Linked DNA regions of Homo sapiens: region 1 is reported to be linked to region 2. Evidence: microRNA targets listed by miRTarBase, many of them from high-throughput screens and not tested one by one. Region 2 holds a microRNA gene; the other region holds the end of a gene's coding sequence.

Region 1 (4,000 bases), not on the chromosome of region 2:
TTCTAAACACTCTACTGATTGACTCCGAAGCCTTCACAAGAACCCTATGAGGTAGGTACTGTTATTAACCCCATTTTACAGATGAGGAAATTGAAGCTGAGTGAGATTAGGTAATTTGCCTAAGATCAGACAGCTAGTAAGTGGCAGAGTCAGGATTTCAACACCAGCAGCCTGGCTCTAGAGGCAATGTTCTTCTTAGACATTATGCCATCCTGACGCTACTTCTTTTCCTACTTTCCATTTAAAGACAACTGAAAGCTGTAAGCAAGGAGAAACTTTCCATGTTCTATAATCCTACCCAGACACAAGGCTCAGAGTGGGCTCAGGAGGAAAGAGGGAAATGGAAATGAAAGGGTCTCAACCTGAGAAAATTCAGTCTTGAAAGCGGAGTGATGGGACATAAATCATGAGCCCAGAACAAATTGGGGGAGCAGTGAGTCAGAGAGAATCTCCTTCCACTGGGATTTTAGTGGAAATCTCATTTTTAAAATGCAATATAAAAAATTAGGGAGTTGCTGGGTAGAATGGAACATGGAGGAAATGTTCAAAGTTGGAGCAAAAAGGTCCCTTCTCCCTCTTCCCTCCAGGGAAATATGGGAACTGTGAGAGGCAGCAGGCAAGTTATGGGCAGAGGCAGATACAATGAGTTCATGTGGGAAATTTCTGGTCAGACTAGCTCTGTGGTTCCAAAGGCAAAGACTGCACCTTGGGCGAGATGAATGCCCTTCGTTGTCTTTATCACTAACACTTCAAATGGGGCAAGCCAGGACATACTAGCAGGTCAAAGGCCCAAACAGCGGAGGCCTACTACCTCCTGAACAGAGCTCCACCTGGACCTGACTCAAGGAACATTTATATGCAACTGAGGAGCTTTTGTTTCATTTCATTTTGAATAGTCAAGTCAGTCTTGCTTTCTTTAGGTAAAGTTTTACAGTAACCTCCTTTGTAGTCCTTTGAAGATGAGGATTTGAGAAATCCCAACTCCTAAAGTAGGGGAGAGACAGCAGCAGAATATGACCCACAGCCAGACCCAAAGGGGCTAGCCCGACCCCTGTATATATTGTACCTCTCTCTCTGCCCACCTCTCCCCCACTTCTCCCCACTGCCCCATTCTCTCTTATCCTGCCTATTCCTCTCCCCTATTTCTCTGTCTCTCTCTCTCTCACATACACACACACTCACTCACAAGCAGTACAGTCACTAAGTTGGCTAGGTAATATCCAAAGCATTCTGATTGTCCTACTTTTTGTAAATTGAACTTATTTAAGATATTTTAGAAGAGATGAGTCACGTCTTCCTTTGACCCTTCACCCATAACACACATACCATTCTCACAGGAGGCCACATGGTGCAGTAGAGTCAGACTTTGATTCAAAGCCCAACTCTGTCACGTGACAGTAGGCTTGAGTTTCCTCATCTGTAAAAAGGGAAGATTTCCTACTTCATAAAGTGGTTGGAGAAATTAAAGAAATAGTATATGAAGCCTTGCACATAAAAAGCATTTGATATATATTAATGCCCTTTTGCACAAGAGGTCAAGAATTGCTTGGGTTCTACCTAGAAATCAAGAGCCTTATTTCTGAGCTGGGTTACTTGGCACCTGTGTTATTTCTCTCTCAAAACTACATAATGGTAGGAGGAGTAAAAGAAAAAGTCCCCGCCTCCCAGAGAAATTGAAGGATCCAGAAAGAAGTGCTTATAGCAGGGAATGTCTCCCCTCACCTCCTGTATGAACATCTCTCTCCTTCCTCCAGTATAGGAGGGTCTGCAAAGCTAAAGGAAGAGTTCCTTTGTTACAAGATAGAAAAGTGGTGCCACTTTAAAGATGATTTCTCAGTGTTCTCCTTAGATACCAAATACAAAGGACGAGGGATCAAGCTCAGCGAAAGTATCAGGCATTTAAGGTATCAGGCAGCAATGCGGGGAAAGGTGAATTTTCTTCAATCAGCATAGGATGGTTAGGGAAGAGCATTTATCACTTTGGTTCTTATCCTTCAAGCCAGGGGAAAAGCAACAGTGAGGACATCAGAGACAAAAGCATTTATAGAACTAACAAACACAAACGTTTGACAAGTGAGAAAGCTTTATTAAAGCACACATACATGTCAGGGGGGTGGGAAACAAAAGAGCAAGTTACAGCCCGGGATCCCAAGTTATGCCTTCCATTACAATTGCAATCCACACCAAATCAATCTTTGAAAACATTCCTCCATTCGGTTCATACATACAGTAGAAACCACTGTGGCTGCCCTTAATCCAGTGTGCTTATAGGAAATCAGTTAGCAGCTGACTCTGTTGAAAGGGATTTCCTCTCTGCTATACACTCCTTCCACACACAACTTTGGGTAGAAACGCTTATGAGAATAGAAAGGTCAGTTTGATCAATGAGTACCAGAAGATGAAACTTAGCTCACTAGACCCTTCTTTGAAAAGCCTCAACACACTACACCCATGTAATATGTAGGTCAAATTTAGGAAACAATAGCAAAAACAGGAACTGAAAGCTCATCAAGCAGGAAGTCAGAATAACAGGGAGACTCTGTCTACATTCCCTTAGAGCCCTTAACAGTCCCCAGCCTGGAGAAACACTGGGCCAATTGAGATAACACTTGGCTCTTCTGGTTGACACAGTGGGATGTAGACCATGCTCTGTTTGATAACACACCCCAGACGCAAACACTAAGACAGATGTGGTACATGAGGATGAATATATCTCATCTTTCATTCGAGAAATGAGGAGCTCTCTCTCCAATGACTGCAGTATCAGTTTAAAATGCAGAAAATTCAGCATGGGCTGTGAGACACTTTACCCTCAGTCACTCTGGTCCTCTGAGATCAGCTAGAAGCTCTCACTGGGCATCCTCGTGATTTAGTCAAAATACATTATCTAATTAAAGTGCTTTTCAAAAGCAGCTCCATTATAAGAGTCCCCCAAAGGTCTAGTAAAGATATCTAGAACTGGAAAAAGCTTGGGAATTCTGTTAGCATTTCAAAGAAAAGCATTAGACCAAAGCAAGGTGGAAACTGCTTAAAAACTAGAAAAGTTAAATTTAAAAGCCAAGTTCCAGAAGTTTATCCAGGTAGAAAATAAGTTAAAAGCATAAATTGGAGAGGAGAAAGAGGAAGGAACTACTCACCTCTCCCCAACATTCCTGTCTTTACTAACCAACCCTGCTTCCCAGAGCCTTAAAACCCAGACTGGTCCTAATGCGAAAGGTAGCCAGGGCTTCCTAGGGAAGTAGGAACAATGATAGCAAGACAGAAGATAAAAAGTTGTTTTAAAAGCTGTTTTTAAGTTAAGTGAACCTTATAAAGACATAAGAAAAAATGGACTCTGAAAATAAACTAGATTATACACAGAAACATTTTAAAGAAATGCTTATTCTTGAGACTGCTTTAAAAAGAAGAACAAGTCTGCATCACTCTAGCCAGCATAATGAGATTTGCAGAAAATACATGTTTGTACACATACACACACACACACACACACACACATACACACATACACACATACACATTAAATTATAAATCTTTGCTCTTGATTTCTTCACTTCCTCTGACCTGCCCTCGCCAGGGCTGGACCTGCAGAAGAGGACAGGGACTCATAAACCCAGCTTCTGCTTGGCCATTGAGGAACGGAGCTGCAGAGTCCCTTCTGCCCAAGACCCTGGGTACTGTCGCATCTTCTGCCACAGGCTCACTTCTTCCCCAGTCGAGTCCATCCAGTCCACCACTTCCCCATTACTGATCCCTGAGGAGAAACACCAGAAGAGGCTAAAGAGGGGCCCCACTCTCAGCCCACCAGGGAAGATGGGTTGTACAGCAAGATTAGCCACCCCATAACAGTTTCCTACGAAGATGGGCTAATGGCCACAGCAGTCTGGGAAGTGCTCCCTCACCTGTATTCCTGAGACTCTGTCAAGAGACTCTGGGTTGATGAAATCAGACTCCAAATGGCACACAGTCACTAGAGACTTCTTATTCTGAGGCTGTTACAGAG
Region 2 (4,174 bases):
TGTACTATCTTTGCAACTTTTCTGGGAATCTAAAATTACTCCAAAATAAAAAAAAAATGTATTTAAAGTAAATATATTCCCTAAGAGTCCAGGAGGCAGGGGAGTTGTAGAAGCAGCTGAGTGGTTGGGCTCTGACAGATTTGGGTTCCAACTCGGTCTCTGCTGCTCACCAGCTGTGTGACCTTGAGCAAGTGGCTTAGCCTTTCTGAGCCTGATTTCCTTATCTGTGGAGTGGGGAAGATGACAGCCACCTCGCAGGGCTGTGGAGGGTTAAACGAGGTGATGCATGGACAGCAGCCGCACTGACCTTGCTGGTGTGGGGCTCCTGCTTCTGTTCTTCCCGTGCAGCCTTGGGAATGTTGGAGGCCGTATCCAGGGACCCCTGGGCCTCCTGGGATGGCCTCTCTGGATCAGCCTTGGAAGGTTCCAGGCTGCCCTTAGGCTCCCACATTCTTCCCCAGTCACGCTCTCCTCGCCCTGCCCACACCAGTCCTGTGACCCTTGCCTGAGTTGTGACTTCCCACCCCTCCCCGGCCTAGAGGAAAGCTGCCTGGCCCCTCAGTGGGACTCCCGCCCACTGACCCTCTGTCCACCATACACAGACAGGGGCACTATCCACAAGGTGGTGGAACCGGGGGAGCAGGAGCACAGCTTCGCCTTCAACATCATGGAGATCCAGCCCTTCCGCCGCGCGGCTGCCATCCAGACCATGTCGCTGGATGCTGAGCGGGTGAGCCTTCCCCCACTGCGTCCCATGGGCTATGCAGTGACTGCAGCTGAGGACAGGGCTCCTTTGCATGTGATTTGTGTGTTCTTTTAAGAGCTTCTAGGCCTTAGGGCCTGGACATTTAGGACTGAGTGTGGGGTGGGGCCCGGGCCTGACCCAATCCTGCTGTCCTTCCAGAGGAAGCTGTATGTGAGCTCCCAGTGGGAGGTGAGCCAGGTGCCCCTGGACCTGTGTGAGGTCTATGGCGGGGGCTGCCACGGTTGCCTCATGTCCCGAGACCCCTACTGCGGCTGGGACCAAGGCCGCTGCATCTCCATCTACAGCTCCGAACGGTACGTTGGCCGGGATCCCTCGTCCCTGGGAGAAGGTGGGCATGGGAGAGGGGGAGGTGTTGTCGGGCTGGAGGAGGTGGCGGTACTGGGCCTTTCTTGTGGGACCCTCCTCTCTGCTGGAACTGCACTGGGGTAAGGATAGGAGGGTCAGGTCTGCAGCCTTGTATCTGCTGATCCTCTTTCGTCCTTCCCACTCCAGGTCAGTGCTGCAATCCATTAATCCAGCCGAGCCACACAAGGAGTGTCCCAACCCCAAACCAGGTACCTGATCTGGCCCTGCTGGCGGCTGTGGCCCAATGAGTGGGGTACTGCCCTGCCCTGATTGTCCTGGTCTGAGGGAGACATGGCCTTGTCCTGTGGGCCCCAGGTACATGGGGCAGGATACAGTCCTGCAGAGGGAGCCCTCTTGGTGGGATGAGCGAGACGGGAGAAAAAAGGAGGACGCTGAGGGCTGGGTTCCCCACGTTCATTCAGAAGCCTTGTCCTGGGATCCCAGTCCGTGGGGAGGACACATCCTCCCCTGGGAGCTCTTTGTCCCTCCTCACGGCTGCTTCCCCACTGCCTCCCCAGACAAGGCCCCACTGCAGAAGGTTTCCCTGGCCCCAAACTCTCGCTACTACCTGAGCTGCCCCATGGAATCCCGCCACGCCACCTACTCATGGCGCCACAAGGAGAACGTGGAGCAGAGCTGCGAACCTGGTCACCAGAGCCCCAACTGCATCCTGTTCATCGAGAACCTCACGGCGCAGCAGTACGGCCACTACTTCTGCGAGGCCCAGGAGGGCTCCTACTTCCGCGAGGCTCAGCACTGGCAGCTGCTGCCCGAGGACGGCATCATGGCCGAGCACCTGCTGGGTCATGCCTGTGCCCTGGCCGCCTCCCTCTGGCTGGGGGTGCTGCCCACACTCACTCTTGGCTTGCTGGTCCACTAGGGCCTCCCGAGGCTGGGCATGCCTCAGGCTTCTGCAGCCCAGGGCACTAGAACGTCTCACACTCAGAGCCGGCTGGCCCGGGAGCTCCTTGCCTGCCACTTCTTCCAGGGGACAGAATAACCCAGTGGAGGATGCCAGGCCTGGAGACGTCCAGCCGCAGGCGGCTGCTGGGCCCCAGGTGGCGCACGGATGGTGAGGGGCTGAGAATGAGGGCACCGACTGTGAAGCTGGGGCATCGATGACCCAAGACTTTATCTTCTGGAAAATATTTTTCAGACTCCTCAAACTTGACTAAATGCAGCGATGCTCCCAGCCCAAGAGCCCATGGGTCGGGGAGTGGGTTTGGATAGGAGAGCTGGGACTCCATCTCGACCCTGGGGCTGAGGCCTGAGTCCTTCTGGACTCTTGGTACCCACATTGCCTCCTTCCCCTCCCTCTCTCATGGCTGGGTGGCTGGTGTTCCTGAAGACCCAGGGCTACCCTCTGTCCAGCCCTGTCCTCTGCAGCTCCCTCTCTGGTCCTGGGTCCCACAGGACAGCCGCCTTGCATGTTTATTGAAGGATGTTTGCTTTCCGGACGGAAGGACGGAAAAAGCTCTATTTTTATGTTAGGCTTATTTCATGTATAGCTACTTCCGACTGCATCTGTATGAAAATACCAAAACTACATGCGGGGGGGTGGGTGGGAAAGGGAGGGGCTGGGAAGGGATGGGTTGGGGAGCGGGGGTGATCCCAGTCTGAGGCTCCCGGGGATGAGATAAGAGTCTGGAGACGGGCATGGGTTCTTGGAGAGTGGCATGAGCTGGCTCTGCCCTGGGAGCCCGGTCTGAGGGGGACGTTGTTGGAGCCCCTAGTGTTGGGGGTGGTTATGGGAGGGGGTGGGGTGAGGGAAACGGGAGAATGAAGGAGAAAACTGAGCCCTAGTTTCACCGTGTTCATTTGGAAGGACGAGCCGGGTCCTCAGGGGGAGGTTCCAGGACTCTGCCCTTGGCGTTGAGGGTTGGGGGGCGGGGGGCCTCCTCCCTTCCTCTCAGCCCCCTTCCCCAGGGGCTGTGCTTCCATGCTCCTAGCCTCCCACCTTCGCTCAGGACATGTTATAACTTAGGCTAAACTGTGAAAATTCCGGTGGGGATGGCCTGGGCCGAGCTCTCCAGGCAGGCGGCCCTGCCCCCAGCCCTGTCCATCCATTTCAGGGGGGAGCTGGGCCCTTCTCCGGCTGTGTCTGGCCACCCAGGGCAGTGGCTGGGGCCAGTGGCCTTCCAGCTTTGGCCCCTGCACCTCTTCTCAATGCACTTTAATAATGTAACATATTACTAATAAACAAGCTATTTATTTACCTGCGCCTGTTCCTTGCCTGCAAAGCTGTCCTGGTCAGGGGGTGTTGGTGGGGGCTCCTGTTTATTACTCGCCACCCCCTGGCTGCGTGAGCATCACATGCATTCTTTCATGTCCTGGTTAGGGCCCAGGAGCCAGCTCAGCAGGGCTGTAGCTAGTGAGAGGCAGGAATGGGGACCTGAACCCACGACTCCTCAGCAGCGTGCTGCTTGCTCGAGCCTTGACCCCAGAGCCCCAATAGCACGTGCACCCCTTTTCCCCATTCCCAGCCTTCACCTCCCACCACTTCCCCCTGGAAGGCCTGGCCTGGGTCATGCTAGAAACAGCCTCAGGACTCCCTGCCTTCAAGGGGCAGTTCTGGAGGGCAAGCTGATCAAATGCGACCCTGTGGGATGCTGTGGCCTTGAGTGTGTGTGCAGGAGGCTGGTGCCGGCTGAAGAGATGTGGGAATGGGATTTGCTCCAGGCAGGGTAGGGGTCTGGGTGAGGGTTGGAGAGTAGGGAGGGACCTGTGGGGAGGGTTTATGAGTGATGAGGTAGGATTTGAGTTGTAGAAACTCAGGACTCCCTCCAAGATCAAGTAAATAGGTTTTAGAACACAGAAGTTTATGCAGGAAGGAGCCTCTGAGGCTGGGGTGGAAGGATGCAGGGGAGTTAGTTAGGAGGCTGTCTGGTGGCGGGTGGAGGTCAGGATGAGAGCAGTGGTCCTGGGATGAAGGGCAGGGACAGTAGGGAGCACTGCAGATAGAAGTCCAGATAGAAGCCCAGAGGCCTCCCCTCCCCCTTGTTCCCTTCTCTGTCCCCTGTCCCTGGAGGCAAGGACCTAGGCCTTTGGGGTCTGCTAGGCGTT

What was found. Region 2 holds the annotated microRNA hsa-miR-6881-3p (AUCCUCUUUCGUCCUUCCCACU, at 1,233-1,254, shown strand). A microRNA usually pairs through its seed, bases 2 to 8, with sites in the 3' UTR of a target mRNA and lowers its output. Matches are read on the target gene's strand: a 7mer-m8 pairs with bases 2 to 8, a 7mer-A1 pairs with bases 2 to 7 and ends in A, and an 8mer does both.
Region 1: the mRNA of SYTL4 is a reported target of hsa-miR-6881-3p. Seed matches in the 3' UTR shown: 7mer-A1 at 3,552-3,558 and 7mer-A1 at 2,307-2,313.

The regions. Positions count from the first base shown.
Region 1 is chrX:100,672,426-100,676,425 of GRCh38, forward strand. It overlaps SYTL4 (synaptotagmin like 4), which reads right to left. Exons shown (of 20, transcript NM_001370165.1): 20 at 2,066-3,751. The coding sequence ends at 3,603. It overlaps SRPX2 (sushi repeat containing protein X-linked 2), which reads left to right. Exons shown (of 11, transcript NM_014467.3): 11 at 1-3,363. Among named protein-coding and RNA genes, the nearest start is that of SRPX2, 30 kb to the left of the region's middle.
Region 2 is chr15:74,408,441-74,412,614 of GRCh38, reverse strand. MIR6881 (microRNA 6881) reads left to right here and starts at 1,183; the gene lies at 1,183-1,258. It overlaps SEMA7A (semaphorin 7A (JohnMiltonHagen blood group)), which reads left to right. Exons shown (of 14, transcript NM_003612.5): 11 at 603-730; 12 at 905-1,059; 13 at 1,259-1,320; 14 at 1,630-3,326. The coding sequence ends at 1,991. RefSeq lists enhancers at 1-465, 466-966, 2,972-3,231, 2,875-3,375.